7 linked regions of the Homo sapiens genome follow. The protein of the gene in region 4 purifies or fractionates together with the protein of the main gene of each other region. This does not show direct contact. Each region holds a gene or a part of one and is shown on either strand. Other genes may lie near its edges.

What was found.
Region 1: the proteins of PHIP (region 4) and COPS4 purify together in Homo sapiens (affinity purification with mass spectrometry, with the first as the bait; one large-scale study listed by BioGRID). This does not show direct contact.
Region 2: the proteins of PHIP (region 4) and FOXP4 purify together in Homo sapiens (affinity purification with mass spectrometry, with the first as the bait; one large-scale study listed by BioGRID). This does not show direct contact.
Region 3: the proteins of PHIP (region 4) and BCKDHA purify together in Homo sapiens (affinity purification with mass spectrometry, with the first as the bait; one large-scale study listed by BioGRID). This does not show direct contact.
Region 5: the proteins of PHIP (region 4) and SUPT16H purify together in Homo sapiens (affinity purification with western blotting; 2 studies listed by BioGRID, with this or other methods). This does not show direct contact.
Region 6: the proteins of PHIP (region 4) and GCDH purify together in Homo sapiens (affinity purification with mass spectrometry, with the first as the bait; one large-scale study listed by BioGRID). This does not show direct contact.
Region 7: the proteins of PHIP (region 4) and XRN1 purify together in Homo sapiens (affinity purification with mass spectrometry, with the first as the bait; one large-scale study listed by BioGRID). This does not show direct contact.

What each region holds. Positions count from the first base shown.
Region 1 is NC_000004.12:83,048,683-83,052,182, reverse strand, and holds part of COPS4 (COP9 signalosome complex subunit 4), read right to left. Parts: intron 3,018-3,500; coding exon 2,866-3,017; intron 2,303-2,865; coding exon 2,199-2,302; intron 1-2,198. UniProt on the Homo sapiens protein: Component of the COP9 signalosome complex (CSN), a complex involved in various cellular and developmental processes.
Region 2 is NC_000006.12:41,552,881-41,556,380, reverse strand, and holds part of FOXP4 (forkhead box protein P4), read right to left. Parts: intron 1-3,500. UniProt on the Homo sapiens protein: Transcriptional repressor that represses lung-specific expression.
Region 3 is NC_000019.10:41,404,318-41,407,817, reverse strand, and holds part of BCKDHA (2-oxoisovalerate dehydrogenase subunit alpha, mitochondrial isoform 1 precursor), read right to left. Parts: intron 1-3,500. UniProt on the Homo sapiens protein: Together with BCKDHB forms the heterotetrameric E1 subunit of the mitochondrial branched-chain alpha-ketoacid dehydrogenase (BCKD) complex.
Region 4 is NC_000006.12:78,935,255-78,938,754, forward strand, and holds part of PHIP (PH-interacting protein), read right to left. Parts: 3' UTR 279-3,500; coding exon of another isoform or gene 207-278; 3' UTR 1-206.
Region 5 is NC_000014.9:21,374,020-21,377,519, forward strand, and holds part of SUPT16H (FACT complex subunit SPT16), read right to left. Parts: intron 1-3,500. UniProt on the Homo sapiens protein: Component of the FACT complex, a general chromatin factor that acts to reorganize nucleosomes. The FACT complex is involved in multiple processes that require DNA as a template such as mRNA elongation, DNA replication and DNA repair.
Region 6 is NC_000019.10:12,897,330-12,900,499, reverse strand, and holds the end of GCDH (glutaryl-CoA dehydrogenase, mitochondrial isoform a precursor), read right to left. Parts: coding exon 3,072-3,170; intron 2,798-3,071; coding exon 2,637-2,797; intron 1,715-2,636; exon of another isoform or gene 1,160-1,714; coding exon of another isoform or gene 1,115-1,159; intron 1,033-1,114; coding exon 959-1,032; 3' UTR 801-958; coding exon of another isoform or gene 757-800; 3' UTR 501-756; downstream 1-500. Other genes in the region: SYCE2 (synaptonemal complex central element protein 2), read left to right, coding at 1-40, 380-496, 1,115-1,159. UniProt on the Homo sapiens protein: Catalyzes the oxidative decarboxylation of glutaryl-CoA to crotonyl-CoA and CO(2) in the degradative pathway of L-lysine, L-hydroxylysine, and L-tryptophan metabolism. It uses electron transfer flavoprotein as its electron acceptor. Isoform Short is inactive.
Region 7 is NC_000003.12:142,417,038-142,420,537, forward strand, and holds part of XRN1 (5'-3' exoribonuclease 1), read right to left. Parts: intron 1,845-3,500; coding exon 1,778-1,844; intron 1,573-1,777; coding exon 1,467-1,572; coding exon of another isoform or gene 1,433-1,466; exon of another isoform or gene 804-1,432; intron 193-803; coding exon 103-192; intron 1-102. UniProt on the Homo sapiens protein: Major 5'-3' exoribonuclease involved in mRNA decay. Required for the 5'-3'-processing of the G4 tetraplex-containing DNA and RNA substrates. The kinetic of hydrolysis is faster for G4 RNA tetraplex than for G4 DNA tetraplex and monomeric RNA tetraplex.

The sequences.
Region 1 (3,500 bases), on a different chromosome or scaffold from region 4:
TTGAAAACTCCCCCACAGGGTAGCCCATACTCACTATCTCCACATCTTCTCTTCCCATTCTCTCTTAAACCATGCAATCAGGCTTTCACTATCATTTCACAAAACTCAGCTGGTTAAGGTTATCAGTGGCCTCTACACTACTAATGCCAACAGTTAACCTGTACTCCTTATCTTACTTGACCTATCAATGCCATAGCTCACCACCTGGCCCTTGATACATTTTCCTCATTTGGCTTCTAGGACACCACCCTCCACATTATTCTGATTTCCTTCTTACCTCAATGGATAATCCTTCTCATTTGCTACATCTTCCCCTGGTCCCAACCTCTTAACGTTGAAGTGCTCCAGGCCTCACTATACTCAGTCCTTTTGCCTATCTACATTCTCTCCTTTGGGCATCTCATCCAATCTAATGGCTTTAAATTTCATCTATATGTCAATAACTCCCAAATATGTATATCTAGTCCAGATATCTCTTCTAATCTCCAGACTAATACATTCAACTCCTCACTACATATTTCTACTTGGATATCATATGTCCAAAATGAAACTCTTGATATTCCCTACAAACCTATTCTTCCCCACTCCAACTTTCCAATTGCTCAGGCCAAAAATCAGGGCTTATCTTGACTCTTTTTTGCACACTCTACATACAAGCCATCAGGAAATCCTTACTCTACCTTAAAAAACATATCTAGAATTCAATACTTCTCACAACATCCACCTTATCTGTGGTACTGTATAAGCCTTTTTTAAAAAAGACAGGGTCTTGCTTTGTGCCCTAGGTGGGAGTACAGCAGTGCAATCATGGCCCACTGCAGCCTCAAATTACTGGGTTCACACAATCCTCTCGCCTCAGCTTCCCAACTACCTGGGAGTATAGATGCATATCCATACTATATCACCAGGCCCAGCTAATTTAAAACAAAAAAAAATTTTTTTGTAGGGATGGGGGGTGTTCTCAATATGTTGTCCAAGTTGGTCTCAAACTCCTGGGCTCAAGCGATCCTCCCGCCTCAGCCTCCCAAGTAGCTAGGACTACAGGCATGTGCCATCATGCCCAGCATTTTTTTTTTTTTTTTTTGGTGGAGATGGGGTCTAGCTATGCTGCCCAAGTGGTTCTCGAACTCCTGGGCTCAAGCAATCTTCTCCCACCTCAGCCTCCCAAAGTGCTTGGACCATAGGTGTGAGCCACTGTACCTGGTCTCATAAGCCTCTTAACCAATATCCCTACTTCTATCACTGCTTGCCTACAGTTTATTCTCAACCCAGTAGTGAGAGTAATTATTTAAAACAGAAGTCAGATCATTTCACTGTTTGTTCACAATTCTCCAATGGCTCCCCCTCATTTCACTTAGTGAAAAGCCAAATTCCTTACAATGGCTTATAAAACTCCACATAACCTGGTCCCCAGTACTCTCTACTCTCATCCCTGATCTCTTGCCCCTTTGCTCACTCTACTCTATCCACACTGGCCTCCTTGCTCTTATTAAGAAAACACTTCAAGCTTGCTCCCATCTTAGGGCCTTTGCACTAGCCATCTCCTCTAAGAGTATCTAGTGATGATATTCGGCCAGGTGCAGTGGCTCACAGACCTGTAATCCCAGCACTTAGAGAGGCTGAAGTAGGTGGATCACTTGAGGTCAGGAGTTTGAGACCAACCTGGCTAACATGGTGAAACCTAGTAAACATGGTGAAAATCTAGTAAAAATACAAAAATAGCCAGGTGTGGTGGTGCATGCCTGTAGTCCCAGCTACTTGGGAGGCTGAGGCAGGAGAATTGCTTGAACCCAGGAGGCAGAGGTTGCAGTGAGCCGAGATCATGCCACTGCACTCCAGCCTGGGCAACAGAGCAAAACTCCGTCACAAAAAACAACAACAACAACAACAACAACAAGAGTATCTGGTGATATTCTTTCCTCAGATCACTCTTAGCTACTCCCTTATCTCCTTCAAGTCTTTGATAAAGTGACATCAGGGCCACCCTACTACCCCAATCACCCTATTTAAATATACATACAACCTGTCCCCGCTTTGCCCCATTACTTTTCTCCACAGCACTTATCACCTTCTAACATACTACACAATTTTGTATTTATTTGTTTATCTGTTTCCTGTACTAGAATGTAAGAAAAAATATAAGTGAGCAATTATATACATCCTATATATAGTCATCCAATATCCACTATTTACTATACTTTTGTCCTGTTTCCAAAGGAATTCCCACCAACACTTGGGCTGCATTTCTCCAATCTTCTTCTTTCTCATATATAGATGCAAGATGCTGTCTTATGGAAGCAACCTGGAATAATAGGTATACATGTCAAATTATTTCAACTGACATTAGTAACTAATTAAAATAAATAGGAAAGTTATTCTAAAGTGGCAATTCAACATACTAAGCTGCCACGTAAACAGTAAACGTTTATCAAGACCACCCAAGTTTTCCTACGAATTTTGCATTTACAGAATATCAAACTAGTGAACGGAAGCAACACATTTCTGCAATGTGGATTATGGTACAATACTGTAGTTTAAACATTAAATTTAGCTTGTATGTTCCTGCATACACGATGCTGGAGTTTTCCTGTGTTTTCAGCTGAAATACCAATTTTACTGATTTTAAAAAATTGTCTAGAGAGCAATATTTGATTCACAAAATCAAATTTTACTTTATAAGCAAATGTCAGTTGGAGTTGTAACAACCTAATATTTACTTGATTTTGCATCATAAAATGTCGTTTGGCACACTGTTTTGTCAAAAATGAAATTGGATGATTATCTCCTTTAAGAATTTACTAATATCAGATTCTCAAAATAACTGCTGCTATCTCAAGTTAAAAAACCACTTCTCTAGATTTTTACCTGCTCCTCAAATGAAATGACTCTAGGCTGGATCTTTTCCAAGGTGAAGTGATAGATTTCTTTGGCTGTGCTATCAGGCAAGTTAGGAAGATGTGTGCAAAAATCAGTCAGCAACTGCCGCGAGATCACGAGACTGACATTCTCATTTACCACTTGTTTAAAAAAAAAAAAAAGATAAGAAAACATGAGCTGATAAATTGTCATTAAACAATCAACCTTTACTTAAAATTAATACTAACAACAATCTATATTAGTACAGCCTTCAATGCATTATTCAAGGATTTCCATACCCCTATCATTTTATATTACATCATCAGTTTTCCTTATGCTGAAATACTTGATTACACAATGACCACACAAAAACAGTAAAAATAGGCCAGTGCGATGGCTCACGCCTGTAATCTCAGCACTTTGGGAGGCCGAGGCAGGCAGATCACGACGTCAGGAGTTCGAGACCAGCCTGACCAACGTGGTGAAACGCTGTCTCTACTAAAAATACAAAAAAAAAATTAGTCAGGCATGGTGGTGGGCACCTGTAGTCCCAGCTACTCAGGAGGCTAAGGCAAGAGAATCGCTTGAACCTGGGAGGCTGGGGTTGCAGTGAGCCGAGATCACAGCACCGTACTCCAGCCTGG
Region 2 (3,500 bases), about 37 Mb from region 4:
CTGCACTCCAGCCTGGGCAACAGAGCGAGACTCCATTTCAAAAAAAAAAAAAAAACATTCACAGAGTCCCCAAGAGTGCTTTCCTATAGCCCCTCCCTCCTCTCTCCCCCATGCAATTTTGCGCTCATTTTGACAGAGGATGGAACCACACTTCAAAGATGCCAAAGACTTGACAAGGTTACCTGACTGCTAAGTGACTGAGCCAAACTGAAACCAGGTGGCTCTCCTGACTCCTAAACCAGTGCTCCTCCCCGCGTCCTAACTCCCCGAGTCACTCTGGAATCCAAGCCTTCCCTTACCCCTACCACCACCCTCCACCTTACCTTTTACTGGCTCCATCCCTGAAACGCTCCCACAGGCCCTGGCAAGGTGGCCTCCCTCAATACCCCTTCCTACTACACAGACCAAAAAAAAGAATTAACAATACAGGGGGAAAAAAAGAAAGAGAACCAAAGATCCCACTCCATCTCATTAAGAAAGTAAACATAAGAGCCATCTAAGTGTCTAATTAAGCTTCTAATTAGTCCCTGCTTGTTACTAATGCAAATTAGATTACTCCGCTTAACTACAGCATGTCCACAACACCCTTGTTAATTGCGGCCTTTTGAAATTAAATTACTCCCTAATTAGCATATCAAAGCCATTGATTCGGAGCTGGGAAAGATGAGGGCAAGAGGAGCCGAATGCCAAGTTTGGTTAATCAGAGACGGCTAATTAAATAGTGACGTCTTATGTGGGGGGCCTGCTGGTTAAGGGGTAGGGGCAATTCGCCCAGGGCCTGAATGGCCATCTGGAGCCTGGTTCTGGTGGTGCCTTTGGCACCAGGGTTTCCTTTGGGCACAGGAGGGGCTCTAGAGGGCCTGGGACAAACCACTGAGTATGGCCATTTCTGGGCCCCTGGCTGTTCTGCCCAGCCTGCCCCGACATGCCTTGGCCCCTCCCTTCATTTCCTCAGATGTAGGGGGCAAGTGATGACTTTATCATAGAGGGGCTCACCCTGGCAGGGATGCGCTGATTTCATCTTGAAACAGGCCCCCGGAGACACAAGGCCTTATGGTACAAAGACCTAACCTCTGTGGTAGAAAGAAGGCAAAAAGAATCACCCACAACCATCAGTTCTTTTTTTTTTTGAGACAGGGTCTCACTCTGTGTCGCTCAGACTGGAGTGCAGTAGCGCGATCTCGGCTCACTCACTGCAACCTTTCCTCCTTGGCTTAAGTGATCCTCTGGTCTCAGCCTCCCGAGTAGCTGGGACTACAGTCACATGCCACCACACCCTAATTTTTGTATTTTTTGTAGAGAGGGGGTTTCACCATATTGCCCAGGCTGGTCTCAAACTGAGCTCAACTGATCCTCCCACTTTGGCCTCCCAAGTGCTGGGATTACAGGCATGAGCCACTGCGCCCATCCCACCATCAGTTATTAAGTAGCTGTGTGGGAATTAGATTTGGGTCAGGGTGTCCTTATAGGTCCTCTCTCTGAGATCTTCTTGTACAGACCCTGCAGTCTTTTTTTTTTTTGGAGGCAGAGTCTCATTCTGTCGCCCAGGCTAGAGTGCAGTGGCACAATCTCGGCTCACTGCAACCTCCGCCTCCCGGGTTCAAGCAATTCTCCTGCCTCAGCCTCCTGAGTAGCTGGGACTACAGGTGCCTGCCACCACGCCCGGCTAACTTTTGTATTTTTAGTAGAGATGGGGTTTCGCCATGTTGGCCAGGATGGTCTTGAACCACTGACCTCAGGTGATTCACCTGCCTTGGCCTCCCAAAGTGCTGGGACTACAGGCATGAGCCACTGTGCCTGGCTAGACCCTGCAGAGTCCTTCAGACACTGTCCCACACTAGATTCTCCTTGAGGAATACTGGGGACAGGTGAATCTCCATGTCAAAGCTGCTAACCAAAATGCCTTCAGGGGCTAGGCTGGTCACTTAGGAGGCCAGGTGAGGAGGGCACGAGGAGGCAGCTGCCACTCAATCCCAGTCCATCCTTTCCACACAGAAATGCAGGCTCAGTGTTGACAGGGCTTGGGTTTTTCAAAAGGAGCAGAAGTGGGGATATTTATGTGAAATTTACCATTGTAATGAACTGTGTGTGGGTCAACAAAACTCAGCAGGGATGAAGTTAGTCCACTTGTGACCTCAGCCCTTATGGCCAGCATTTCAGAAAGGCAAGTTCCAGTTAACTGTGACTCGGGGCAAGTCAGGTAACCTCTCTGGGCCTGGGTACTTCACCTATCAAATGAGAGTGATAATTACCACTGCCTGGAGAATCTTTCAGGGTTGTTGTGGGGATAAGAACAAGGAGGTATGTGAAACGGCAAAGCACAGTTCCTCAGTCAGGGCCTGGTGACTACCTAGCTCTACCTGCCACAACAACCTCCCAGGTTTCCTAATAGGGATGTCCTATTAGAACTTCCTTCCCCCATCTTCCATGCAGGGGGCAGAGCAAGGGCTTCCAAGTGTCCTTGAAAATGCTGAGGGCTTGTTCCTGCAGATATCTGACCTGACTGTTGGGAGGCTTGGAGGTACCACACACCTATGCCCTCTGCCCTGTGTTTTAATGGATCAGTTCTGGCAGGGGCAGCAGCTTCTGAATGACAAAATCCTGAGGGTTAAAAGGTCCCTAGCTTGGTCCTTCTCTACCTCCTCTGTCCCCAACTAGGGTGCAGTCTGTTCCCAGCTCTTCCTCCCTCCCCTAGTCCTCCTAAGTTTCTCACCAGAAGCCCCTGGAGCACACAGGATCACGGCCAAATTCCCAAAGGGTGAGATTCTGTTTACTTAAGGAGAGATCAGACAGGGTCCAGGGGAGGGGAAGTCCTCCTGCCCCCACCTCTGAAAGGGCAAATCCCAGCCAGTACCCAGTCCATGGGTATCCATCCAAGCCAAACTGGGCAAAGGGGCACAGAGCAGTGGTTTTATTTTAGAAAATAAGTGCAATTAAAAGAAAGGCAGAAAAAAAGGAATGGGGGAGGAGAAGGCTGCCCTGGTGTGAGGGGGAGGGGGGATGGCGGCACACAAGGGCCAAGCTGAAGCTCGCCTCACCTCGCGGAGCTCTCTCTCCCAACGAGATTCAATTAATTGATAACATGAGGCATCAAATTAATTTCTGGAGAATGTGAGATTCTGATGAAGGGAAATCTCGTCGATGGGGATCGGGTGGGAGGGGGCAGGCAGCACCCCTTTTAATCAGGCTCCACTGCCTAATTGGGAAGGAGGAGACTTGCATGGGTCATAGTGTCCTCTGCCCCGAGCTCCACAGCACCCCTTTCAAGAAGGACCCATGGAAGTAGGCTCCCGATGCCCTTGGAACAAAGAGGGTGTACGTTGAGACCTTCAGGTCTCTTCTTGCCTGGCTCCCAACCCACAGCTTCAGGATGGTGAGCCCGAGGATGTGGGGCTGCAGGTGTCCTCTTCACCCACTGTACAGTTAGGAAAACTGAGGCCCAGAGAGAAGACGGGTCATGCCTAAGGCCGAAGAGTGAGTTAGGAAGTTGGCAGCAGTGG
Region 3 (3,500 bases), on a different chromosome or scaffold from region 4:
GGTCAGTAATGGTGGCTTCACTTCCCACAGATGTTAAAGAATGGCAGGGTTTGCCACAAGCTGGATCTCACACATGCGTGCTCAAATGTGTCCCTCCGTCTTCCTTTAACTGCAGTGAACAAGCTGTCCACAGTTCTAGCGGGGTAGCATGTTCAGTGTGTGTATTTATTTGCATTTGTAGTCGTGAGGAAATTACACTCCCAATGGCAGGGCAGATTCAGGCCTGGCAATGTCACTGCAGGCCTCCCCTTGTGAGGAGGAAACAGCCGGCCTCTTGCAGCACAGTGCTTCCCCCTTCTGAGTACCCAGCATAGCCAGACACTGACCTAGAAGATTGCTTTGTTTCGTGTCTGTCTCCCACACACACCACAATCCCAGGAAGGCAGAGACAGCGTCCAGGTTGCCTTCACAGCAGGCACTCAAGAGGGAATTCCTGAGTGAATGCATGAATGGGCTGTTAAGTTCCCTGGCTCTGGAGTTCAACTGCCCTGGGTTCTAATTTCTTAGCTCATTGTGTGGCTCTCTGCAAAAACACTTCACCTCTCTGAATTTCCTTATCTGTAAGAAGGCTGCAGAACACCACGTGAAAAGTTGCTAAGTTAACTCACACCAGGGGTTCAGCACCGATCTGGGACGTATTACATACTCAAAACTTGGTAAGAGAGAGAAAAACAAAATCTAGGAAGGTGAGAAGTGGGAGAAAGGGAAGTGACTACACTGTATGAGATAGGGAAAAGAGGAGCTGGGAAGAACTAACTGCACCTTAAAGTGGATACTAAAATCAAACTGTGGCGATGTGCAGCGGCTCATGCCTGTAATCCCAGTACTTTGGGAGGCTGAGGTGGGAGGATCACTTAAGGCCAGTGGTTCGAGATCAGCCTAGGCAACATAGTGAGTCCAGCCTAGGCAAAACCCTCGTCTCTGAAAAATTTTTAAATTAGCCAGGAAGGCTGGGCGTGGTGGCTCACGCCTGTAATCCCAGCACTTTGGGAGTCCGAGGCAGGCAGATCACCTGAGGTCAGGAGTTCAAGACCAGCCTGGCCAACATAGTGAAACCCTGTCTCTACTAAAAATACAAAAAACAGCCGTGCATGATGGTAGGTGCCTGTAATCCCAGCTACTTGGGAGGCTGAGGCAGGAGAATGGCTTGAACCTGGGAGGCGGATGTTGCAGTGAGCCAAGATGGCACCATTGCACTCCAGCCTGGGTGACAAGAGTGAGACTCTATCTAAAAAAAAAAAAAAAAATTAGCTGGGAATGGTGGCATTTACATGTAGTCCAGATACTGGAGTTGCGGGAGGCTGAGGTGAGAGGATGGCTTGAGCCCAGGAGGTCAAGGCTGCAGTGAGCCATGACTGCACCATTGCACTCCAGCCTGGGCAACAAAGTGATACCCTGTCTCAAAGAACAATAAAACCAAACTGTGGCCCCAGCAGATACTCCAGAGAGGGAGACTGAGGCACAGGGGAGACGGCATGCTGATGGAAGAGGACCGAAGGCTGAAGTCTTCAGACGGGCACTAAGAGGGGAGGCCAGAGTCTGAGAACAAACCACTGTGTCAGGGCAGGACTGTCAGCCTCTAGAGGCTGGACAGCTATCTTCACGGCACCCCAGTGTGCTCCACATACTGCAGCTGGGTCTCGGCTGTACCCTCCTCCCCTCTTTGCTGGGCTGGTGGAGATAATGGTAGTCCCCAGCCCCAGGGTTGCTGCCCCAATTCAGTGAGCTATGCAAAGGGCTCCACGCTGTGCCTGGTCCTGAGGAAATGCTCCATAATGGGAGTGGGTGGCCAAATGCCTGCAGAGGAAGGATGCGACTCCACCCATCTGTTCCTCTAGTTTTTGGAAGGGGGTGGGGGAGTCTGTCCCGGTGGCCAGTGATTTACAATGGCAGAGGCTGCACAGATTTACACAAAGCTTCATGCCACGTCCTCTCCCACCATGCAGGAAAGCACAACCTGCCCGCTCTGGATGGTCTGGTCTGCCCAGGAAGTACTGGGGTGACCCTGGTGGAGTCACTTGAAGGCACCATGGCTAAGCGCATGGACTCTAACTGAGCAGACCGCTGCCTGATTATGTGACTTAAACTCCCTGAGCCAAGTGCAGTGGCAGACGCCTGTAATTCTAGCTACTCTGGAGGCTGAGGCAAGAGGATCACTTGAGTCCAGGAGTTCGAGGCCAGCCTGGGAAACATAGTGAGACCTCGTCTCTACAAAAATAAATATATAAATAAAATTTAAGGCCAGGTGTGGTGGTTCACACTTGTAATACCAGCACTTTGGGAGGCCAAGGAGGGAGGATCGCTTGAGCCCAGGAGTTCAAGACCAGCCTGGATAACATGGCAAGACCCCATCCCTACAAAAAATTAGCTGGGCATGGTGGTGCACACCTGTACTCCCCAACTACTTGAGGGGCTGAGGTGGGAGGATCGCTGGAGCCCAAGAGGCTGCAGTGAGCCAAGATCACACCACTGCACTCCAGCCTGGGTGACAAAGTAAGACCTGTCTCAAGGAAAAAAAAAAGAAAAAATTTTTAAAGAAAAACTCCCTGAGCCTCAGTTTCCTCCTGTGTACACCGAGGGTGGTATAAGTACTTATCTCAGGGGTTGTCATGAGGATTAACCGAGTTGACCTGTGTGGATTGCTCAGCCCAGTGCCTGGCACATAATGTTTCATAAACACAAGTAGTGAGTAAGTATTTCTCATGATTGTTCTTGTTAAACAGATACTGAACATTTGCTCCAAATCATGCCCTGAACTGAAGGCTAGAGACAGGGAGGGATGAATGACAAACACTGAACACACAAGTTATAATCAAGACAGGTGATCTTACTCACATTGCTTCACCTGACTAGCCTAAAAAAACAAAAAAGTGTCAAGTTGACAGGTAAGCCAAATGAAAATACAGAAATAATATGGCTGGGTGCGGTGGCTCATGCCTGTAATCCCAGCAGATTTGGGAGGCTGAGGCAGGTGAATCACTTAAGGTCAGGAGTTCATGACCAGCCTGTCAGGCTGATCACGATGGTGAAACCCCATCTCTACTAAAAATACAAAAATTAGCCAGGCGTGGTGGCACGCACCTATAGTCCCAGCTACTCAGGAGGCTGAGGCAGGAGAATCGCTTGAACCTGGGAGGTGGAGGTTGCAGTGAGCCAAGATCGCACCACTGCACTCCAGCCTGGGTGACAGAGTGAGACTCCATCTCAAATAAATTAATAAATAAAATTAGGCTGGGCGTGGTGGCTCACGCCTGTAATCCCAGCACTTTGGGAGACCGAGGCGGGCGGATCATGAGGTCGGGAGATCGAGACCATCCTGGCTAATAAGGTGAAACCCTATCTCTACTAAAAATACAAAAAATTAGCCGGGCGTGGTGGCGGGCGCCTGTAGTCCCAGCTACTCGGGAGGCTGAGGCAGGAGAATGGCGTCAACCTGGGAGGCAGAGCTTGCAGTGAGCCGAGATTGTGCCACTGCACTCCAGCCTGGGTGACAGAGCAAG
Region 4 (3,500 bases):
TTTTAACAAAACATCTTAGGGAGAAATTAACACAAAATTACAAATCACTCCATGTGCTTAATTTGAAATGTTATGGCCTTATGTATTCATATCTAATGGTCTTCATGCTAAAATTGGGATTCTTAGTCAATAAAAATGCATGCCAATCTGACAAAATTTCTAGGAAAACTGCAATAACCTTCTTTCCATCATTCCTTTTTTCCCAGAAATTGCACATTTTTGAGAAAATATTTATGCAAAGTGTTCCACTGAAATGTATCTCTTACGAAAGTATCTGAATAGTGAAGTATTTATCACTCATCACAGTAACTTACGGTAAGAAATCAATAAAATTGTTTTATTAAATGTACACATAAAAAGGCATATAAGTTTTTGACCTTCAGTTGTTTTGGAATTAAATTACATTTCGGCACCCAAATATCTTTTAACTGACAGTTTTCACACTTTGCAAAACACACAGGGCACTGGAAACTCTAATGAACCAGCATTTACATAATGGTATCTGCCATATGACCACTTTGGTAAGCAGCTTGTTGAGATTATGTACTAAGTGCTTTATGTGATGCCAAAAAACTTTAAAAAGCAAATAATAAATCATGAGGCTCTACAAAATAGCTTAGAAAAACAAGTTTTCTATTTATTTAAAAATAAGTTTGTAGTTACTACATTGCAGGGACAGGTATTCTTACACATACATTCTAGTTTGTATAAAAGGATTCAAAGAATTATGCATCAAAACTAACATAGAAAGTGTCCACGTAACAGTAAAGAAAGGTCCAATCAGTATGTACAAAAAGAAAGGGCACTGCTATTCTGGTGTGAAACTGCTGTTTATAATATGATACTCCAGGTTCGGAAGGAAAAAAACAAACTTCAATAAAGCTAAATAATTAATTTGTTTTAAAACTCTGTGTTACTTATTACATACAACAGATCTGCTTGTGTTTAAACATTGTTTTCTGTACAAAATAAGCATAATCTTAATTTGAAAATGTGTCAGTTTCAACTTTCACCCTCTAGGTCAGTTACTTTTTAAAAATTGAGCTACATTCTACACATGTCTAAATATCCTGTGACAGGATTTAAGTTTTCTAAAAGATCTTCAGTAAGACCCCTGTCTTCTTGCAGTTTTAATATGGTCCAAAAATGTAACTTTGTATTGTCTCATGTTATAGTCTATCATTGTGACTAATCAACACACACAATCTTAAAGTAACCAGCATGTGTGCATCTGCCTTATATGCATGTACTATATTCCATCTTGAACCTATTTTCTTGGCTCCTTGAATTGTAGAAACTCAGCCATGCACTAAGTATTTGGTCTGTGCCATAAGGTTAATTTCCTGATAATTTTTATCTGCATTAAAAAAGTATTTCAACACAGAGCTATCAAAACTAAAAATAATATCTATTTATAGCTCATATTTTCTACTCACTGTTCTACTGCAGTGTGTACAAGGTTTATCTCTGGAGCGCCAAAAGTGGTACTTACAGTCTTCTGACTCAATTTGACCTTTTCTTGGGTACTATACATAGTTCGTAATGACTTTTCATTTGGAGCAAACTTTGCTCAGTATAATTAACAAAAATAGTTTCTTAGTAAATGTAATATTAATTTTAGTTCAGATCACTTGGAAATTAGGGGAACTAAGGGAAACTGCAAGGGTAGAAGCAAAGAAAAGTGTATTTTTCAAATTTTAATGGGAAAATAAATTCTTGCCTAAGTGTAACAAAACCACTGCTCAATCTGTTATGTTAGAAATACTTTTTAGGTTAATAGGAGTAATCAGATGATAAAACTACTTCCCCTATTATGACTTTTAAAATCATGTAACTCCTGCATATAAGCAGAACACTTACAGTCCTTTAATCACTCAAGTATCTTGGTCCTTTCAACCTACTCAAAAATAAATTTCAGGTAACAAAAACATTCAGAATATATCCGTTTTCATTAGATAGAAAACTGAAAAAGTTGCTTCTAGCTGACATTTGAGAGAGATATACAGTAGGTATATATGTATAAAATGGAATGTCAGAATTGAAGTAAACATTGTTAACTGGAGAAATTAATTTATATTACAAATCATATCTGAAAACATGTAAATGCTGCTAACATATAAGATAAAAATATTTGAATACATTTCTTAAAATGTCTGATTCCTCTACTGCACTGCAGATGAGGGACAGTTCTAGATGTTAACATACATGCTGCATAAAGATATTTTCTCTGATTACTGTATCTTATGTAATTCATTTCCAAGTGATAACTAAATTTAGTCAATCCCAAGTCTCAGATGTTACCTAATCCAGCTCACAAATATTCCACATACTTATTTACTTGGATTGGAGGAAGACAGTTTTATAATAATGCCAGCAGTCTTTAAATTTGTAGTGAAGTTGTGCAATAAAAACAATTGAAATAAGGCCAATCTTTAGTTTATAATACATGCAGAAAATAGTCCAATGCCACTATAGCAGGTCACAAAGGATAAAATTTTAAAAAGCTATGTATCTATTGCCCAGGGCTGTGAGTCTCTGATTAGACTAAATATTTAAACTAATGCTCCACTGAAACTTTTCATCTGGGACTTGAGAATGTTGGAGTTGAGGGAGAGAATACTAGGGTTGGGTACTTAGAAATACCTAAATTGGTTTACACTTTCCATGCATGTAAGAGTTATATTTCTGAACTTTCAGTAAATTGGAGATGTTTTTATTGCTTACCTAAGACAACTGCCAATATTTCTTTCTGGCCTATTAACAGTACATACATAGTGTTACTGCCTCAAAGAGGATTATTTTCCCAAGTGGTAAAGAAAACAAAAATATGGTGATGACTTAAATTTCTTAATTCAACTTCTGTAATGCATAGAAGCTAAATTATAAAAATATAAAATCTAAATATATTGGTATTACTAATACATGTTTAAGTGTTTCGGTTACAAAGAATCTGATCCAAGTTACTGTGCTTTACTAAGAAACCAGTGTCTAATAATGTCCAAATAAGGTCATAAATATACAGTGTCTGTAGAACAGGAATAATACATTTACATGTTATAGGAAAGATGGTAAATACTCATTTCTTTGCTTGAGTTGGAATTAACACATACACTGTACTAGAGGTATATTCCACTCTAAGACTGTGTACGCTCTTCCTTTTTCTGTACACAACTTAAAACTGTACATTTTTTTTACAAAAATTGATTTTATAGCCTATTATTTTTTTCTTAACACAATGCAGATAACATCAGGAAATTACATATTTCAAATAGATTGCCTTCAAAAGCAACTAATTAATGACAAATTTCAAACATACACTATTATTTTCAAGAATGGTGTAACTGAAAGACTCATTTTTCTATACAATCAAGCCATCCATTTCTGCATTATGAAGAGTTTAACTACTGAATTTTAATTTTATAGTTAAATATATTTGTTAGAAAAAAATAAATATACAAAAAACCTGAAAAATTTGAAATTATTTTTCAACTGCAAAATCT
Region 5 (3,500 bases), on a different chromosome or scaffold from region 4:
GCCTGGGCCAAACTAATTTTTTATATTCCAAAATCATCTTGCACTCTCAAAGATAAGCCACCTTCATCTTAGAATCTTTCAAGGAGTCATAATTTATGCAGAAATCTACATATGCCTTCTTTTTTGGTTCAGCCACAGAAATTTTAATAGAGAGATGTAACCCCAGGGCAAAATGAACACTTCAACAACATGAAATCACAGATGCCTGGCCAGAAGGCCACATATCTGAGGTTTCATGAAAGCACTGGAAGCCATGGTAGTTTTTGTCCTTGTAGGTTTTGTCAACCTCAATACCAATGTCCTTTCTGGCTGATGGAGAGACGGGAGTTCTTTATTTTTTAAAAAAGTTTTATTGAGACAGAATTCACATAAAATTCAAAAGCATACAATGTAATGATTTTTAGCAGAATTATGCAACCATCACAATTTTGGAACATTTTAATCTCTATGTCCTTGAGTACAATCATTCCCCAACTCCCCTATCTCCATCTCAGCCCTAGACAAACCACTAACCTGTCTCTATGGATTTGTCTATTCTGGACAATTCATATACATGGAATCAAATAAAATGTGGCCTTTGTGTCTGGCTTCTTTCACTTGTTTTCAAGGCTCATCTGTGTTGTGACACGTATCAACACTTCATTCCCTTTTACTGCTGAATATTTCATTGTGTAGATATACCACATTTTATCTATCCATTCATCAGCTGCAGGACACTTGGGTTTTCACTTTCTGGCTATTGTAAAAAATGTTGCCATGAACATTTGAATATGTTTTGTATGGACATTTCTCTTGGGTATACATATACCTAGGAGATGAACTGCTGGGTCATATGGTAACTTTTCGAGGAATCATCAGACTGTTTGTCACCATGACTGCACTAGTCACTATTTCACATTCCTAAGAATGTATCAAGGTTCCAATTTTTCCACGTTAACCAACAGTTTTTATGTCGTTTTGATGACAGCCATATAATGAGTGTAAATTAGTATCCTGCTTTTTTTTTTCTTTTGAGACAGAGTCTCGCTCTATCACCCAGGCTGGAGTGCAGTGGTGCAAACTTGGCTCACTGCAACCTCCGCCTCCTAGGTTCAAGCGATTCTTGTGCCTCAGCCTCCCAAGTAGCGGGACTTCAGGTATGCACCACCACGCCCAGCTAATTTTTATATTTCTTAGTAGAGACGAGGTTTCACCATGTTGGCCAGGCTGGTCTTGAACTCCTGACCTCAAGTGATCCGCCCCCACTTGGCCTCCTGAAGTGCTGGGATTACAGGCATGAGCCACCACGCCCGGCCCTCACTGTAGTTTTGATTTCATTTCTCTGATAGCTAATGACGCTGAGCATCATTTCATATGTTTACTGACAACTGTATGCCTCTTGGAGAAATGCCTGTTCAGATCCTCTGCCATTTTGTAGCTGAGTTGTTGCTTTATTATTGAGCTGTAAGAGTTTTCATATTCTAGACACAGGATCTGCAGACATTTTCTCCCATTCTGTGCATTTTATTTTCACTTTCTTGATAGTGTCCTTTGAAGCACCAAAGTTTCTAATTTTGAAGTGGTACAATTTATCTATTTTCTTTTTTATTTTGGAGACAGAGTCTCACTCTATCCCCCAGGCTGGAGTGCAGTGGCACGATCTCGGCTCACTGCAACCTCCGTCTCCTGGGTTCAAGCAATTCTCGTGCTTCAGCATCCCAAGTAGTTGGGACTCCAGGCAACTGCCCCATGCCTGGCTAATTTTTGTATTTTTAGCAGAGACTAGGTTTTGCCATGTTGGCCAGGCTGGTCTTGAACTCCTGACCTCAAGTGATCCTCCTGCCTTGGCCTCCCAAAATGCTAGGATCACAGGTGTGAGCCACTGTGCCTGGCCTATCTATTTTCTTGTGCTTTTGGTGTCATATCTAAGAAGGTTCTGCCTAATTCAAGGTCACTCAGATTTACTTTATACTTCTTCTACAAGGGTTTCATAGCTTTAGCTGTCACAGTTAGGTCTATGATTCATTTTCAATTAATTTTTTTGTATGGTCTGAGGACTAACCCAACTTCATTCTTTTACATTGAATATCTAGTTATTACAACACCATTTGTTGAAAAGACTATTCATTTCTCATTGAATTATCTTGACATCCCTGTCAAAAATTAAATGACCATAAATGTGAGGATTTATTTCTGAATTTTCACGTTTATTCCACTCTTCTATATGCCTATCCTTAGGCCAGTACCGTGATGTTTTGATTACTACAGCGTTGTAGTAAGTTTTGAAATCAAGATGTGTGAGTTCTCCAACCATCAGATACTCTTCAATAGCTCTATAAAGCCAAAACACTGGTCATTCTGAGCTATAATTCTGACTTCCCCTATAAAGTCAAGATAAATGCATACATAAGACTCTTCCACATTTTTAAGGCTTCTGCTTGTTAATAAGGATATATGATAGCAACTGAGTGTTCTGTTGTATTTCTCTACCACAACAAAATATATTATGCAAAGAAGTCACTACATAGAAATTATATGCCTTTTCTCATTGATTTTCAGTAAGAAATGTTTTCCTTCAGGTTGGTAAAAAGTTTTACCATTAGTTCTCACCAATAGTGAAATAGTAATGGCACTTAAAACTGCTAGTCCCTTTGTATGAGTCAAGGTAGTGGCGCCAAACTACTTCTCCATTACTACACACTCAGGAAAAAAGGCCAGTTTCACGTAAAAGTCCTTGATGAAGTAAAAATGATTACCATTATAAAATCCCAAACCCTTGCATTTGTCTTTTAATATTCTATGTAAAGAAATAAGAAGTTATAAATAAAGCACTTCTGTGTGCAGTGAATTTATGATGGTTGGCTAAGTAAAAGCACTTGAATACATATTTCAGTAGCAAGATAACTAGCCATTTGAAGACCTGGATTAGCCAGGCATGGTAGTAGGCACCTGTAATCCCAGCTACTCGGGAGGCTGAGGCAGGAGAATCTCTTGAACCTGGGAGGTTGCAGTAAGCCGAGATTGCATCACTGCACTCCAGCCTGGGCGACAGTGAGACTGTCTCAAAGAAAGAAAAAGAAAAAAAAAAAAAAAAAAAAGATCAACAATGAACAGATTTAACCAAAGAGGTCTAAACCTTACTGAATAGGAATTTCAGAAACAAAAGACATCACTAAGGAAATGCAGGGACCAAAATGATCAAATAATGCACCATCCTAGGACTGAAGAATATGAGCTTGAGACTAAAAGGATTTCCCCAAAAGAGACATATCAAAGCACATTGCTGTGCAATTTCAAAACAGAAGGGATGATTCTAAATTTCAGAGAGAACAGGCTATGTATGTATACTGGAAATAGAATCATATCAGCCTTCTCAAAAGTAACACTGAAGTCTTTGACGCCAAATAATGGCTTCAAAATTCTGAGCAAAAAATGATTTTCAACACAGAATTTTATACCTACTGCATTAACAAAGCCAATAGAGTTGACTTTGGTTAACTATATTATTAACCAAAAGTGAG
Region 6 (3,170 bases), on a different chromosome or scaffold from region 4:
CGTGGAGACTGTGTACAAAGACCTGTGTCTCCAGCCTGAGGTATGAGTAAACTCACAGGGGGGGCGCTGCCTGAGGAAGAGGACAGGGATGGCCCAGCCAAGAGTAAATGTGAACAGAAACCAGGCACCCAGCCCTGACCCCGCCAGGCCACAGTCCCTGCAAAGCCCTTGGTGCACTCACCATCTTGTTTGTGATCCCCTATAACATGGTGTGTCTGAGCTGAGAAGCCAAACCGTTGTCATGTCCCACTGTTGTATGAGCAGCTCTGTGGTGACAGAAAGGACAAAGTCCCTTGCACCCCTGCCACTCAGAAATCATCCCCTCTGCCCACAGCCCTGGCACAGACCGGCACTGCTAACCTGGGTTTCTTTTTTACAGCAGAGCCTAAGACTCAGATGGGGGCCAGACCACTCTAGGGGAAAGTCCCCACCACGTCCCGGCAACTCACAGCCCCCAGACGTGTTCGTTTCTTCTGTGGCTGAAACTACTTCTCAGGTGGTTACCAGTAAACCGGCCTGACACCTTGGGGTCAGATGTGCAGGTCTTTATTTTCCTCTCCCTCACTCTGCTCCAACACCCAGCATAAGGCACTACCCCCAGATGGGAGGGAGGGAGGGCGCACTGTGAACTCAGTGTGAGGGGGTCAGCTGCAGCAGACGGAGTTGCTTCCATGTCACTCTCCTCTCAAGAGAAGCTGCTATTTCAGGGTAAATGGAGTCTGCTCTCATCCATGGTTAAAAGTGGATTGAGACGCTCTACAGAGAATTCCATCTTCTTTTTAAGGAACACATCTGAACGACTTCAGAAGGGAAATTTTGATATTTAAAAATCAGTGTCTCTCACTTCCCACTCCATCCGCCACCTCCCTTTCTAAGCTCAGAGCACAGCGCTCCTACGGTCCAGCCAGGCATCTCTCCAGAAAGGGGCTTGAGAGTTTCGGGCCCCTGATGGAGCGGCTCACTTGCTGGCCGTGAACGCCTGGATTCCCGTGATAGCTCTCCCAAGGATCAGGGCGTGAATGTCATGTGTACCTGGACAAGATTAATACAGAGTCGGTTTGGAGTTTTCATAGCTCACAACTTCCCTTTAAAATCAATTTTCATGTATCCCCAGGCCACTGCTTCAGAAGTACAGACCAACAGAGATGGTGAATGCTGACAGCTGCCGGGAGACTCACGCCTTAGTGACAGTCTCCAGGAGAAGACTGTGAGGCCACCATTTGGGCCACACTGAGAAATTGTTTTTCATGGTTCTATAATGCATCTTGGCAGAAAAAAACAAAAACCCAAAGCTCCTTGTGCTGAACTCCCAAAATGTAGCAAGTCCAGCCCCTGCCATAGGCCCAGGCTTCGTGCTCCCCACCCTTGGCAAGTTCTCCCCACCCCCAGCCCCACAGTTTATTAAATGTTTGATTTTCAACCTGGCCACGCTTCCTTGCCACAGAGGCTGAAAGCACCCCTGAGCTCCAAGGAAACACAGCAAGCCCTTTCTTACCCTCGGGAGGGATAGGAGGGACAGCACATCGGAAGAGCAGTCACTTGCCTCAGCTGACCTCTGCCCATCTGAAGCCGCCTCTCCCAGAGAATCCCACACCCCATGCCCTGGTGTCTCATCCTTTGCTCCTCCCCAGCTCCTTGAAGCAGAAGGCAGATTGTAGCCTCCTTTTTAGAGCCAATTCTGTTTACTTCCTAAAGTACAAACCTATTTTTTTTAAATATAGATAGGGTCTCACTCTGTCACCCAGGCTGGAGTGCAGTGGGGTGATCATAGCTCATCATAACTTCTAACTCCTGGGCTCAAGCAATCCTCCTGCCTTAGCCTCCCAAAGCGCTGGGATTACAGGTGTGAGCCACTGCGCCGAGCCCCTAAAGCACCAAATCTGACTCATCCCTTCTCTGCATAAAACCATCTCATGGCGCCCGCTGCTTGTCCTCAGGGTCATTCTCACATTTGTAGGATCCCCCCACCCCCCAGATGCCAGATAGAGACAAGATCTGGGGTTGCAAGGTGCGCAGGGAAGGCACCCCTCCTGCATTTGCTGTTCTCTCTGTCTGGAAGCATCTCTGCCCGGGGGGTCCTCATACCTCCCTCTATTTCTACATAGCGCATGCTGGGTTTGCACTTTTTTTTTTTTTTTAAGTATCTTTTTCCACATCTGTCTTCCCACCAAGCAAGGGGTTCTGGACCCCCATGTAAATCACCATCAGTTACAGGGTGCAAACACCGTCATCTGAAGATGACTTTTGTCTCTTAACAAAATGGAGCGTTGATTCCTGCGTGTAGCTTCGCTCACTCCCTTGCGTCCACCAGCCTGCTAGGAGTCGGGCCTCACCCCTGGGCTGCCTTCGGAGCTTACCTGTCTCAGGAACATCCCTCCTCCCGAGCATGTGGGAGAAAGAGCTGGGAGCCCCTCGCAAGGCCTGATGGGGCCTCTGTGTGCTGCATGAAGCACTTCACTTCCACAGTCCCCATGTGAGTAACTCCAGATGAGGGACAGAGGGGTAAGGCTCGCCCCAGGTCACACTGTCACTTAGTGATAGGTGGAGTTGGACTCAGACCTGTCCCCGTCCCACCTCCCTGTACCCCCTCCCCAGACACTGAGGCCTCAGTGAGCCCTCTGAGGTCCAGCTCCTACCTTCGTAGGTGTTCACGGCCTCCAGGTTCATGGCGTGCCGGATCACGTGATACTCGTCAGAAATCCCATTCCCCCCCAGCATGTCTCGGGCCTGGCGGGCGATGTCCAGGGCTTTCCCACAGTTATTCCTCTTCAGCAGAGAAACCATCTCGGGGGCAGCCCTGGGAGTGGCACATGAGGGTAACAAGGACTGGGGATCCTGGCATCCCGATGCTCCAAGCAAACCTAGCCCGGGGTGGGGATTCCCTGATGCAGCCAAGCTCCCAATGAGGGACCAGTGGGGCTGTCCTCAGCCCAGCCCATCAAGGACAAGAGGGACAGCAGAAGGTTCAGGTCCCCAGGGCCACCAGGCAGGAAGGACCTTTCTCTCCAGGAAGGACACAAGGTCCTCCAGCCACCGCTGCCATCCCCCCGCCCCCACCACACAGCCCCTACTTGTCCTGGTCCTTCAAGCGGCCGAGCTGCAGGCAGGCGTGAAGGCCCAGGGTAATCTCAGTGAGCATGTCTGCCAGCTTCTTCTGAATCAGCTGGTTC
Region 7 (3,500 bases), on a different chromosome or scaffold from region 4:
TTACCATAAGTAGAAATAAAAGGAAGTGCTTCCTAAATAAGACTCTAGTAGAATGAATCATTATAAAAAGACAAAACTTTATTTTTGTTTTTATTCTCTCACCAGCTCCAGGACTGAACTCCATGATAGTAATAGTGCAAAATCCACTGTATTGCCTGAACATAACATGCAGCTTGATCAGCCAGAAAGTCACTGAAAATAGAATATTTTCATTATAACATATTTTCTGAAGACAGGCCCGTGTCTTTAGAGCACGGTATCTGCTGATACAACATTTTACCTCAGATGATTTATTTAATCAATGAATTAGCTATTTATGGCTAAAAATTATAATCCTAAAAACTCCAAAATATTTTTAAAAATTACATCCTGTCACATGACAGTTTTCCTAAACCAACTATCAAAATAGATAAGTCTGTTATTCATATTTACTCAGTTAATGTACCACTCCCTTGGTCCAAAGGTTGAAGATTTACCCAATGAAGCTTTCCATAGTGACACTACCACTCTCTTAAATAGTGGGGGTGAGACGGGAGAAAGGGATGGGAATCTTCTTTACATGGGATGATATCTGAGAGAAGCAAAGCAGCAAATCAGGAAGATCTTAAAATTTGGTCACAGAAGCTAGAATGCTTTCAGAAGTGCTGTATGTGAACAATATTCCTTCTAATCCTTTCTTTGTCAAAAACCAAATGCCATCTTCTAAGTTTGGGTAAAATAAGTCTTCAAATCATCAAAACAAAACAAAACAGAGCCCTGGGCTAAAGGCAAAAATATTCACTTAGAAATTACATAACTACATATTTCTGGGAGGTAGTTTTTTAATATGAAAAATATTGCTTTTTTATTATAAAAGAACTATTTCCTCAGGAGTGAAAATCTGGACAATGAAGAACAGCATTTTTATCATCTTATAGCCATCACTTTTACATTTTTAGTGTTTCAGTCTTTTATCTATATCTAGGTTTTTTTAAGGTTAATGAGAGCATACTGTATGTATGATTTCATGTCTTGCCTTTACAATTTGTACTTAATAATGTACTATAAGCATCCTTCCAAATTGTTATGAACTTTCTGCAAGTACCAGTTTAGCAGTTCTGCAGATTCCGGAGATGGAAGAGGTGACAGAGATGGTGACTGTAATGAAGAAGCAGTGGCCAATTATGATGAACCTTCTTATTGGACATTTAGATTATTTCTAATTTTTTTACTATTATAAACAACTTTGTAACAAAAATCCTTATACATAAGGATCATTTTCTCTTCAGCAATTTTTATCACAGGAATATAATACAAGTCAGAATTAATACCATCTTCTCCAAAACCAGACTAGTTGAAACATACACAATAATTCATGAAACCAAAAAATCCTTTTTCTCCCACTACTTCATCAAAATCATATTTTCTGAATAACTGCAAAATCTAATTTTTTCTATTTTAAAATAAAAGCATTGGCAAAAACGTACTCAGATACTACGTCAACCCCCATCTTCGTCATGTAATATGTTCTTTTATATTGTCTAAACTCAGTTTCAAATAGGTCATCATCTTCAGTCTCATCTTCTAAATTATCTGGGGAAAAAAGTCAGAAAGATAGTGACTGACAATTATGAATAGCCTGTTTTTCCACCTAATGATTTGATAAATGCATATCCAAGTTGATGCTTATATGCTATCACAGAAATCTGTTCCACCCAAAATTAGTAATAATAAATAAAAGGTATAACAATTATCCTGTCAAAGTAGTAACATATCAAAACACATACTTCATACTTACCCTTAGAAGTTATCATTTCGCCTTCATTTTTGTCTAAAGCAGTCCAACACAGAGAATTTTCCTGGCCCTGTAAATTGTAAATCAACATAAAATGAATGGCAAGATACATTTCAAAATGAGATGTCATTTCTCTTCCATGCACCCATTTGCTTTTCTATAGTTCTTCCATGTTATAACATCCTTCATATCCTGCCCATCTGTTTTTCCTCCCTTGTGATCTCAATCCTTTCTCTCCTCTATTCTCTGATTTCCTGTCTACTGCCAATGACTCTCTTTAGTTCTTCCTACTCCCTTATCCCCATTTCCTTTCTTTCATCCAACTTATGGCCTCTACCAACTTCCTGTGTCTGGGCTATTCCTGCACAGTGTCTCTAAAGTTAGCTGCATATGGCTGGAAGACTGGTGAAGTTTAAGTACTGAATTGTGGTGGGGGAGCCAGGGATTACTGACAGGTAAGTTTTGTGTGTACAGGTTCCCAAAAAGTTGCAGAGCCCGTTTTCTTAGGGGGGGAAAAAAAAAGACACACACACACACACAAAAACCAGTGGAATGCAGACTGACTGCTGCCAAGTTCCAGTGAGGAAGAGCTAAGCAGCGAGAAGGACTACACTAGAGAAAACAAGGACAGTTGCCCCTCCTGGAGCAAGAGTCATTAAGTTTGAACCTAAATAGAACCAGTACAGCAAGGAGAGTAAGAAGCTCAACAGAATCTTGGCCGGGCACGGTGGCTCACGCCTGTAATCCCAGGACTTAAGGGAGGCCAAGGTGGGCAGATCACGAGGTCAGGAGTTCGAGACCAGCATTACCAACATAGTGAAACCCCGTCTCTACTAAAAATACAAAAATTAGCTGGGTGGTGGCGCGCACCTCTAATCCCAGGTACTCAGGAGGCTGAGGCAGGGGAATTCAAGCGAACCCAGGAGGTAGAGGTTGCAGTGAGCCAAGATCGCGCCACTGCACTCCAGCCTGAGTGACAGAGTGACATGCTGTCTCCAAAAAAAAAAAAAAGAAACTCAGCAGAATCCAATAATTACAGAGAGGCTGAAGAATTTTTCACAAGAGGTTTACTTTTCAAGTTAACACAAGACATTCTTTGGAGATTATCAGAGATGCTCTGCAGGGTACTATCATATTCTAATTGATTCTATTATTCATTTATTAAGCACATAACATTTACTAGATATTGTGCTATTAGGCTGGCACAAAAGTAATTGTGGTTTTTGCCATTACTATTAACTTAGACTATTGTATTTTATATGTAAATCATTTCTAGAGAAAAATCACTGATCTAGTTAATGTCTCATATCATTAAACACTATAAATATCCACATTTTAAAAACTAGTCCATTGTTTTAAAATAACAATTTTTTTTTAATTAAAAAAAAATTGCCAGGGGAAAGTGTGAATGCAGTCCTCCACTACCATAAGTCACGCAGTTCAGTTTCCCACATTTGGCGAAATCGCAGGGCATCAGCACATCCAGAGTGCAATGGATAAACCTCGCCCTGGGAAAACTACCTTCATGATCATGGTATCCTCCCTGTCAGGTTTTAAATAATTGTTTTTCTTTTTTATGAGACAGAGTCTCACTCTATCAGCCAGGCTGGAGTGCAGTGGCTCAGTCTTGGCTCACTGCAACCTCTGTCTCCCAGGTTCAAGTGATTCTCGTGCCTCAGCCTCCCAAGTAGCTGGGATTACAGGTGTGTGCCACCACATCCAACTA